3 linked regions of the Homo sapiens genome follow. The protein of the gene in region 1 interacts with the protein of each later gene in a biochemical or structural test. Each region holds a gene or a part of one and is shown in the gene's direction. Other genes may lie near its edges.

Region 1 (3,747 bases):
TTTGGTGTGCTGATTATAGGTTTAACATGTCTTGTCTCTGCTGCTAGACTGTGAACTCCTGCAAGGCTTTTATGTCCTCAGCACCTAATGATCCCTGATAAGCACTCAAATATTTATTGAACAAATTGCAGCCAACTATAAAATGCTGTGAGTTTCTCAGTATGTAGTGCGGGTACATTTCCCTTAAGTTGGTATTTTCTGGGTCAGGCGCGGCGGCTCACGCCTGTAATCCCAGCACTTTGGGAGGCCAAGGTGAGGCGGGCGCATCACGAGGTCAGGAGTTTGAGACCAGCCTGGCCAATATGGTGAAACCCTGTCTCCACTAAAAATACAAAATTAGCCGGGCGTGGTGACGCAGGCCTGTAATCTCAGCTATTCGGGAGGCTGAGGTAGGAGAATTGCTTGAACCCGGGGGGCGGAGGTTGCAGTGAGCCAAGTCGCGCCACTGCACTCCAGCCTGGGTGACAGAGTGAGACTTGGTCCCCCCCCAAAAAAATAAAAAAATAGGTATTTCCATGGATACAGAAACAGATTTAATTTGGTGCCTGCATGTGAGTGATCAGCTTGGTTGGGATGGGGCCTCTGGAGGGTCCAAGGCTTTGGAGGAAGGAGAGTGGGTAGGCAGTTCAGAGAGGGACAGAAAGATCCCTTTTGTGGGTAAGAAAACCCCTCTGTTCATCTTCAGCTACACCAAAGGTATGGGGGCTCTGGTGGAGGTATTCTGCACGTGTATCTAGGGTAGTTACTGTTAGGTACACTTTGGATTCAGTACCCCAGGCTTTGCCCTAGGGAGGGACAGTTGTCATTTCAAGGAAGACTGCTTTATACTGTCAGATACCTGGTTCACACCGGCTTAGCAGCAGTGTGCCACCACCCCAATCCCATACGTAAGCGTTGAGGGGTCACAGAGGTAGTGAGAATGATGGGATCCAAGGATCTCGTCTCTCCAGATCCACTCACACCAGGAGTTAATCTCTCCAACGTCGAGCTCTGAGTCCCTCCCTCTCTCGCCCGAGCTCCGCCCCCCTTCCCTCTTGGCGGTCCTGGCGGGCTTCCCCTGGAGGGGGCGGCCCCAGCCCGAGCGCTAGGCCGGGCGGAGCTCCGGCCCGGGCGGAGCCGCGGCCGCCGCGTCCGGCTGCTGGACCGAACTTCTGCCGTGCGGACAGCAGGAGCAGCGCCGAGCCCCATTCCCCCACCTCTCCAGCTCGCCCTCTGAGCCTCCCGAGCCCTCTCTCCATTTCCCACAATTGTGCTGGTAAGTCCCGCTCCCCGCACCAAACTTTTTTTTGCTGCCGAGTTTGAGTCCTACGATCGGACCACGAGCTGCACTGTAGTTGGTGTATGGGGGAGGAGGAGAGGGTGAATTACTGAATGCCGACTCCACGGCTTCCCTAAGACGGATCAGCGCTCGCCCATTTCCCGAGTTGGAAGACCTCTCGATTTTAGTTGATTAAACTTATGCAGAGATGGAGATGAGGGTTTGCGCTCCAACTTCGCTACCCCCTCCCCCATTTCTCTGAGCTCTAGCAGTTCCCGATACTTTCCCTCCATCTTTCAAGTATCTTTGGCTCCCTAAAAGCTTGTCCCCTCCCAACTCTGCCGTGGCAAAGCCCCCCTCCACCAGGCACTTCGGGCCCGCCTCCTCCCCGTTGCCCTAGGGACCCCGCGATCTTGGGGGCCATACACTCCCTCCGGGGCTACGCGTCCTGCCAACCGGCCGCAGACGTGTAGCTGCTGGGTCGGCTGTGGAGGGAGGGGCTCAGGCTGGGGCTTGTCCGAAGCCAGGCGGGCGGGGCCGGGAAGGGGAGGTATAGGGGGCCGGACTGGGCGGAGCAGGCGGCATTTGCGGCCGGCGCCAGGGTGGAGAGTTGTGCGCCGGTCCCTGGGCCTGAGCTCCGGCTCCGGCTGGGGCGCCTGCGATGTCTCAAGATGGCGGAGCTGGGCGAATTAAAGGTACCGGCCCCCTCCCCCCATCCCCATCTGGACTCAGCCCGGCGGTACGCCGTGTCCGGGAAGCGACCGAGACTGGGTGCCGGGGCTCGGGTGGGCGCCGACGACGTGGCAGGCACGAGCTGCTGAGGATGGGAGAGAAGTAGCTGAGAGCGAGGAAGGGGCTGCGGCGGGGCTCCGGGGGCGGGGCTGCGGGGCAGATGTAGGGGTGGGGCCGAGGGGAATTGCAGCTGTTGGGGGCTGAGGCGCAGGGGGCGGGGACGAGGGGTAGAAGTCGGATTTAGTAGTAGGGGCGGTTGTTGGGGTAGGGCCAGGGGGAAAAGGTGCTGTAGAGGCACTGGGGGCGAGTCGATCAAGGCCAAGAGATGCAACAGTAGGGGGCACATGCAGGGATGGGACCGCGGGGCAGACGTAGGGGAGGCTCCGGGGGAAAGGCAGCTGAGAGGATAGGGTCTTTGGGGCTACTCTCGGGATCCGAGCTTTGGGAAATACCAGTAGGCTGCTGAGATGCAGGGGGCGGGGCTGTGCGGGCCGATACCTCGAGGGGTGGGGCAGAAGCATCCTGGAGGCTCAGAGGAAGGTCCTGCCGTAGTGAATCGCGGTGTTTGGGAAGAGGCAGAGGCATGTGAAACTATGGGATAGAAAGGTGGGAAGTTATAGGGGAAGCTAATGGAGAAAAAAAGACAGGACAGAGGAGATAAGGATGGGGAGAAAGAGGAGCAAGTTTCTCATCACATTCCATAAAAGGGGTCCAAGACAAAGCCTCCTATGAGAAGAATTGTGTAGGGCTAGCAAGCCCTGCACATGACAGGATCTCCTAGAGATTCACAGAAGGGAGTCTTCTAAGGAGAGCGCTCCCCTCCTGCTACATAGAGTTTGGAGGGTGACCACATCTGAGGACATCTCATAGAACCTCAAACTACCGAGTTCATCCGCCTGCCTCCTGGTTTTCTTCTGCCCTTTGAAATGGGAGCTATGGTCCTGGGAAGGCTGGAGGTCTAGCCACTGGGCCCAGCTACCTTCAGGGGATTTGCGATTCTGTGCCCTGACTCAGAGGCTTTTCCTTCATCCACCCAGGGTCTCTGTTTAGAGCTCTGCCCTCTCCTCTTCCACCCCTATAGGGGGGCGCTGTAAGTTGTAGAGGAGTATTAATTTCTCTGTGTAGGAGAGATGCCAGATTATGGTTCCTGGCAGATAGAGTAAACAGGCAGGATACTTGGACTCAGTGATTCACTGTTAATCTCCCCGACCCAAGTTTTGGTCCTGTTTCCCTTCCAGAAAAATAGGACTAAGTTGTGGGGAGGGGGTGGTTATATAAACGATTCCAAGAAAGGATCTGGGGAAGTTATGAGCATTGAACCCTGACCTGAAAACCCTGGCCACAGAAGCTTCAGAGGCTTGGGGGAAATAGCTGAGGTGAATTAAGGTGGTTGGGAGGGGTGGGCTGAAGGGCACAATCCTCCAGCCACCTAGCCCCTTTCTTCCCGTGGGGCTGTCTGGCTTGAATCCTCTTGTCTCTCCCTCCTTCTCCCTGTCTCCTATCCTGTTCCCAGGAGGCTGGGATGGGTTTGAGAGTCTGAGAAAGGGCAAGAGAGGAGATAAGCAGCTTAAAGCAGAGTCCAGGGATGGAGGCGGGAGGCTGCATGGACTCGGAGGTGTGTCTGAGGGTGGCTTGCTGTCTGCCATTCCCTGCCCCACTCTGGCTGCTTCCAGGCCTGGGGAAATAGTGTTGCTCAAGCTCGGGGGTGGTGGTGATGATGCTGACCTGATGGTTGCTAAAGTGGGACTGAGATGTCC
Region 2 (3,747 bases), on another chromosome or scaffold:
AATCACCCCTCCATTTGCTGCAGTTGCCCTTGCGTGCTGTACTCAGACTTGGAGGAAGTGATGTCTTATTCAAGGCCAGTTTTTGTACTAGTGGTTAAATAAATGGTTTCCAAATTGGAGTCAGAAGGAGAGCTTCTAAAATGTAGGTTCCCTGGCCTCAATTGTGAGATTCTGCTTTAGCAGGTCTGGAATTGGAGCACTGGGATCTGCATTTTCAGAAAACCCAAAATGATTATCAGCCAGGACTTAAACCTCTGCTTTAGACCACATTCCCTGTGGGCTTTCAGATTTTCTATCAATGTTCTTCCCTCTTCCCAGCTCCCACACATTAAAACTCAGATCATGCAGAAAAGAAGTTACAGTTCCTTCATTTCACATCAATTTCTCATGCATCCCATCTGGTTTTGGGAAGGTGTGGGACGAGGTGGATGGCCTTAAACTTGCCAATCAAAGATAACGTTCTCTTTCGATTCAAATAGCCTATCTCAGGCTTAAAACCATCTCTTTGGATAAATGCTCAGCTTTTCAAAGGTTCTTCCTAGCTTCTTCCTCATGATGGCATCTAGTGGGTGAGAACAGTCATCTCCAGGTGACACAGGAAAGAGTTTCTCTAATGTATGTGCTGAGGTCCTTGACGGTCCTGCTGCTGGTGCTCATCCTGCCATCTTTGCTGGATGTCACTGAGTCTACTGGGTAATGTAAGTGGGTCCCTGGCTTTTGTTCACTGCTGTCATGCCCTGCTCCTGACCACAACTCTGTCATTGCCTTTGGTCTCAAGGTCTCTACCTTAATAGCTTCCATGTCCCAACTATGGGACTGTTAATCTGCTGGGCTTTGGAGTGGGTGGGAAGGGATGATGTTGGAACTTTGGGATGTACTGAACATCTTGCTCAAGCTTTGGGAAGCCAACATTTTCTCAGACTGACTAGACACCTCCTTCCACCAATGCTGAGCTAGTGCTCCTGTGCCATACTGGGTAAGCCTCTAAGTCATGAGTAGGACTTTTTTGAGTGGCTTGCAGTCTTCCCCAGGCTATGCCAGGAAAGTAGTTGACTAACCCTGCTGCTCCAAGACTCGCATACCCATCCTGAAGTTTCCGTTTATTTCCCAACAGGGCAATTGCAATCTCAATCAATCTCTCCCTGCCCTGGGAGTCATTCCACTCCTGCCTAATGAAGAGACTCTTCTCACATCGTATTCTCAGTTTCTCTTATCCATGGTTAGGAGTAAAACTCATGTTCAGTTGTCCAAGCTTTGCTTTTAGTATGTGAATGGAGCTCTTAGCATGTAGAACTCCCTTCTCATTCTCAGTAAAGTCTGACTTTGAAGACTACTTATCATCTTCCTAGAGATGCCAAAGAATAATCAAGATAATAAAGGCAGGCTCTGAGATTCACAGCTGAGTAGCAACTGTGCTGTTACTCTAGTACACACCCTCTCCTTTCCTGTGACTGTCAGGCTTCAGGGCTTACCTTTATTGGAAAGACAGCAGGGGGGCATATATGAAGAAAATGGAATCTTTAATATTGTCAAAGTCTTGACCCAATAGAGACATTCTTGCCCCAGACTCTCTTGCTTCAGTGCCTTTGCCTGTTCTGGTCCTAAGTACCTTGAATATCCTTCTCTTGATGCCCTGATATAAAACTCTTTATTCCTCAAAGCCAAGTTCAGGTTATCACCTCCACCACAGACTTTTCTTTCCCTCCCCAAACTTCATTGCCTCTTCTCATCACTCCCTTTGTAATTTGTTTATACTGGTAAGAGAGCATTCATCATAATTAGGCCTATCTATGCCTACCTTTCTTGTTAAATTATGAGCTTTGTTCTGCCTTGGATATCTCTCTGGCTTGGATATCTCTCTGGCCTTTGCTCTGCACTTCCAAATGTATCCATTATTCAAGACCCAGGTTTCCAGCCTGATCAACATAGCAAGATCCCATCTCTCCAAAAAAAAAAAAAAAAAAAAATTGTGGGGCCGGGTACAGTGGCTCATGCCTGTAATCCCAGCACTTTGGGAGGCCGAGGCAGGTGGATCATGAGGTCACGAGTTTGAGACCAGTCTGGCCAACATAGTGAAACCCCATCTGTACTAAAAATGCAGAAAATTAGCCGGGTGTGGTGGTGTGTGCCTGTAATCCCAGCTACTCGGGAGGCTGAGGCAGGAGAATCGCATGAACCCGGGAGGCAGAGGTTGCAGTGAGCCGAGATTGCGCCACTGCACTCCAGCCTGGGTGACATTGCAAGACTCCATCTCAAAAAAAAAAAAAAAAAAAATTAGCTGGGCATGGTGGCAGGCACCTGTAGTCCCAGCTACTTGAGAGGCTGAGGTGGGAGGATTGCTTGAGCCCAGGAAGTCGAGGCTTCATGAGCCATGTTTGTGCTACTGCACTCTAGCCTGGATGACAAAGTGAGATCCTTTTCTAAAAATAAGGACCCAGTTTATTTTATTTAGTTATTTAGTTATTTTTGAGACCAAGTTTCATCACTCAGGCTGGAGTGCAATGGCACAGTCTTGACTCACTGCAACCTCTGCCTCCTGGATTCAAGCAATTCTTCTGCCTCAGCCTCTTGAGTAGCTGGGATTGCAGGTGCCCGCCACCACACCTGGCTAATTTTTGTATTTTTGGTAGAGACAGGGTTTCACTATGTTGGCCAGGCTGGTCTCAAACTCCTGACCTCAGGTGATCCACCTGCCTTGGTCTCCCAAACTGCTGGGATTACAGGTGTGAGTCACCCTGCCTGGCCAGAACCCAGTTTAAATTCCATCCTCTCTGCAGAGTCTTCCTTAACCACCCCTATTGAAAGTTACCCCTGCTTCCTACAAGAAGTGGTACTTGGATGTTCATGAGATACCTGTGCAAGGCTCCTGTGGGGGTCCTGGGGAGACAGTGACATGGACACTCATGAAAGGAACCTTGGAATAGCGAGTGTGTGTGCTATAAAATGTGCTTTAGATTTGATTACCACCACTTAAGTTATGAGCTCTGATATGGTTTGGGTCTCCATCCCCACCCAAATCTCATCTTGAATTGTAATCCCTACATGTTGAGGGAAGGAAGTAATTGTATTATGGGGGTGGTTCTCCCATGCTGTTCTCATGATAGTGAATTCTCACAGGATCTGATGGTTTTATAAATGGTAGTTTTTCCTGTACTTTCACACACTCACACTCTCTTCTGCCACCTTGTGAAGAAGGTGCCTGCTTCCCCTTCTGCCATAATTGTAAGTTTCCTGAGGCCTCCCCAGCTGTATTAGTCTGATCTCACGCGGCTAATAAAGAGATACCGGAGACTGGGTAATTTATAAAAGAGGTTTAATTGACTCACAGTTTTACATGGCTGGGGAGGCCTCACAATTATGGCAGAAGGTGAAGGGGGAGCAAGACACATCTTACATGGCATCAGGCGAGAGAGCTTGTGTAGGGGAACTCCCCTTTATAAAACCATCAGATCTCGTGAGACTTATTCACTATTACAAGAGCAGCACGGGAAAGACCCACCCCCATGATTCAGTTACCTCTCACTGGGTCCCTCACATAATATGGGGAATTATGGGAGCTCCAATTCAAGATGAGATTTGGGTGGGGACACAGCCAAACTATATCACCAGCCATGTGGAACTGTTGAGTCAATTAAACCTCTTTCCTTTATAAATTACCCAGTCTCAGGTATTTCTTTATAGCAGTGTGAGAACAGACTAATACAAGCACCTTGAGGTCAGAGGCTAAAATCACTTTTTCCCAAACAT
Region 3 (3,747 bases), on another chromosome or scaffold:
TGAACCTCAGGACAACCTCAGCTCAGAGGTCTGCACCCTGGAGACCTCTCTTGCGGGTGTACTTAGTTGAAGATGAATTCGGAGGTCTTGGTTTTCCTGAGTTTTCTTTCCTTTGAGGTTAGTCCCTTAGGTCTGGAAGGTCACTATTTGATGTAATAAGTGATGGGTAGACTGTTTCACTGCAGATCTAAAGAAGTTATAAACTGCAGTTGTAACATAAAGTCTGTGATAGCCTTCAGTGGGTCAGCTGACCAAAATTATGCACAGTTTTGTTTCTATCTGTATTTTCTGAGAAGAGGATCCGTAGCTTCCCTCAGATTAAAAAACTTCTGGTGAGCCCAAAGATTAGGCAGCTTCCCATGTTTCTCAATGGGGATACATACCACTGAAATTTGGACAAGAAAATTTGTTATTGTGCAATATGTGTAGTGTCTCTGGCCCATACCCCTTAAACGTCTGTAACATCCATAAGTTATTATGACAACCCCTCCTCCCATATTCCAAGCACTGATAATTGAGAGCCCAGATGAGATTAGAAGTCTAGACTGCATGTTTCCTTCATGTTTGATCTTTCTTCTTTCTCTCCCAGAGAACATGAAGGAAACACGTTTTCTTTGTTTGCTTTTGACAGCTAATTTCCAGCAGTCCATCTATTAAGGAATCTAGGATCCCACTTTTATGAGCACAAAACTCCCACTTTCCTTAGGGGTGTTCTCAGGTATTCTGACATAGTTTAATAGTTTCAGGGGAGGGCCTAAAAGTCGTATGTTGGGGACTAATTTTTATTCTGAAAATTTGGTAATTGCTACTGCAACATAGTGTGCCTTCTGCACTTTTTCCAAATCACCTTGAGAACTCCAGCCCTAACATCGATCCATCCTACTGGATGTCTTTTCTGATGTGAAATTAAAATGTTTCAGTGGGAGGCAAGATATGCAAAGGGGTAACTCCTGGGAGGTGCCCAGTTGTCACTGTAGCCTCTTTAGAATTTTCTCCTAGGACAGTCATTTAGTTTATTAATTCTGAAAGGCCAAACACCAAAATGAGATGTTAATCTGAAAGGAATAACTTCAAGACCTAATAAAGAATGACCACTGAGCAGAGTTTTTATAGATTGCAAATCACTTTCTCTTACATTTGACCTTGCAACATCTTCTAAAACTGGTTTGCCAATCTCTTCTTTTATGGATGAAGAAATGGAGGCTTCTAGGAACCAAGTGACATGCTCAGGATTGCACAGCTCTTCTTAGAAGGACTGGGGATTTCAACTCTGAGTCTTATACCTTTAAATGCCACTGTAACTCTATACTGCCTCCCTGATGCCTCAAAACACTTTTGAAAAGAAGGAACACGTCCTACTGGAGCTAATCAGAGGGAAGAACTAGAAGTACAAATGAGCCACAACGGAGAGTTTTAAAATTCTCTTCCCTAAGTGAGTTCCGGGAAGCTCGGGAAGGGGTGGACACTTGTACAGTTCACTTGTACATCTTCACTCCTGAAATGCTAGGACAAATCTCATTTGAACTCCCAGTCAACTGAGAAATTAAAAGCAGAGAGCAACGACGCTATTTTGTAACTTTGTGCCTTTTAAAATTAACCGAATCTTTCAATTGCTGCTGTAGATTAGAAGTGGCTACTTGGATAAAGGGGAAAGAGCCATTCAACTGATGAATACTATTGTAAAAGTCCAGACTTAGTTCTAGAAAAGGAACGCACAAGAACAATTTCTCCAATAACGTTTTCATTACAGAGCGAAGGAAAGTTCTTCCTCGTTGTTCCAATCCGAGGACAAGCTGATATGTCGCAGCAGCCCAGGGAAGCATGCGAGCTGATAGGAAGTCCTTTTATTTTAAGACAGGCTCGAATGCTAAAACTTTCTTGTGCCAAAACCCTTGACTATTTTATTTTTAAAATAAGCACTTGGCGTGCCCTCGCAGATGTCTGAGCTGAGAGGTCGGGGCGATGGTAGAAGAGCAGTCAGTGTCCATTCTTATTCATATTAAGTAGCCAAGTCTGTACCCTTGAAGCAAGTGGGGAGAGAGGAGGGAGAGGAGCTGCTGACATTGACAATGAATCCAAACAGGAGTTGCACTAGCGGTGTCCACCACGTTGCCTCTCCCCCGCCTGGCCTTCTGGGAGCTGTAGTTTTCGTGGGAGCGGCTCCCCAGGCGAGCTGGGAATGCCCCGCCCGGGCCGAACTACAGATCCCAGGCGGCGCTCGGCCGCCAGCCCCTCCCGCCCGGGTGCGAGTGTAAACTCCCCGCGCTGGGGCGGGCGGCCGCGAGCCGGCGAGCGGGCAGAGCTCGGCACTGCGCCGGGGCGCACGGCTCGGGGGACCCAGGCCCAGCTACCTTCCCTCCGCCCCCGGGCTCTGTTCTCACTTTCCAGCAGTGGAAGGACGGGAAGCGGGAGCCATGCAGTCCGAATCGGGGATCGTGCCGGATTTCGAAGTCGGGGAGGAGTTTCATGAAGAGCCCAAAACCTATTACGAACTCAAAAGTCAACCGCTGAAGAGCAGGTGAGTGGTGACAGCTGGGCAGAGGCGCACCGGGCGGCTGGGGGGCACTGCGTCTGCCACTCTGGGGCGAGGAGAGCGGGTCGCGGGAGCTCTGGGACAAGGACCCAGTGCCCTTGCCCCGGAGCAGAGGGCGAACTGCCCCTCGCAGTTGGGGGCCGCGCCTGCCCGGCCCAAGTGCGCCTTTAGGAAGCTCGGATGGAGCGCACTTCGCGGGGGCGCGGCGGGTCGCCGGGGACGAAGCGTCCAGGCGCGGGGACCCTCGGCCGAGGATGCCAGCTGCTGAGACTGATTGGGGGCTGGGGAGCGACCTGGCGCGATGTGGGGGAGGAGGAGCGCCGGGCCGGGACGCTGTCCCGGTGGGATGGGGGAGAAAGAGTTCTAGTGAACCCCCTTTCTGAAGATCCCAGCGGGTTGAGGGCTCGGAGAGGGAGAGCTTTGGGTGGACTGAGATGCGACATTGGAGGGAAGCAATTAGTTCGCTTGGAGTCACCTCTTGGGAGTCCGGTCTCTGTGGGGAAACTAGCCTCTGGGCTCCTGCAGGTGAGGTTTCTCTGGGCTCCGCCTCTCACCTCCAGACCGCTGCTAGCGGGCGCGGGAGGGGCCAGGGCAGCGGTGGGCGTGTCCCCTTGTTCAAGTTAAACTCTCTGGAAATAGAGTCCCATTCAAATCCAGGCCTTACCTGCAGAGGGGAAATGAGCCTTGGTCTTGGGGGTTACTGGGAGTGTACCCCGCTTGGCAGAGACACGTGTTTAATTCGCTGGGGACTTCAGAAACTTTTTAGACGAGGAGTGAAGACATCCACTGCTCTGATGCCCCATCCCCTCTAGTGCCCACTTCCCTTGAGCCACCCTTTTTGCTGCCTCCATTCCCACTTGTCTGTCGAAATGGATTGGGTGTCTTCCGTTCTCTCTGTCCGGCAGCCACTCTGGACGCCTCGTACTTCTCGTTTACAATGTTTCCTAAAAGGGACATGGTCAATGGAGGCTGGAATAGCTGAGAAGGGTTTATTTCCACCCCTCTAAGCTGTGAGCTAGGATAAGGCTATCATTGGAAGCATCCAGCAGGGCTTCTGCACTCGGCTGTAACTTCCTGCCTTGCCCTTCGCTGTGGATGGGGCCTGGGTGAATGGGCCTGGCTGGCAGAGTGGGAGAGGGTCTTGAAATGAGGGTGAGTGGAGAAGGGCAACTGAACGGGGAGCCAAGTGGTGTAATCTTGGCCTCTGGCGAGCA

What was found.
Region 2: the proteins of PIAS3 (region 1) and SMAD2 form a complex in vitro, tested with the Homo sapiens proteins (one study listed by BioGRID).
Region 3: the proteins of PIAS3 (region 1) and MITF form a complex in vitro, tested with the Homo sapiens proteins (2 studies listed by BioGRID).

The regions. Positions count from the first base shown.
Region 1 is NC_000001.11:145,857,173-145,860,919, reverse strand, and holds the start of PIAS3 (E3 SUMO-protein ligase PIAS3), read left to right. Parts: upstream 1-1,838; 5' UTR 1,839-1,929; coding exon 1,930-1,953; intron 1,954-3,747. UniProt on the Homo sapiens protein: Functions as an E3-type small ubiquitin-like modifier (SUMO) ligase, stabilizing the interaction between UBE2I and the substrate, and as a SUMO-tethering factor.
Region 2 is NC_000018.10:47,811,932-47,815,678, reverse strand, and holds part of SMAD2 (mothers against decapentaplegic homolog 2), read left to right. Parts: 3' UTR 1-3,747. UniProt on the Homo sapiens protein: Receptor-regulated SMAD (R-SMAD) that is an intracellular signal transducer and transcriptional modulator activated by TGF-beta (transforming growth factor) and activin type 1 receptor kinases.
Region 3 is NC_000003.12:69,737,184-69,740,930, forward strand, and holds the start of MITF (microphthalmia-associated transcription factor), read left to right. Parts: upstream 1-2,280; 5' UTR 2,281-2,414; coding exon 2,415-2,518; intron 2,519-3,747. UniProt on the Homo sapiens protein: Transcription factor that acts as a master regulator of melanocyte survival and differentiation as well as melanosome biogenesis.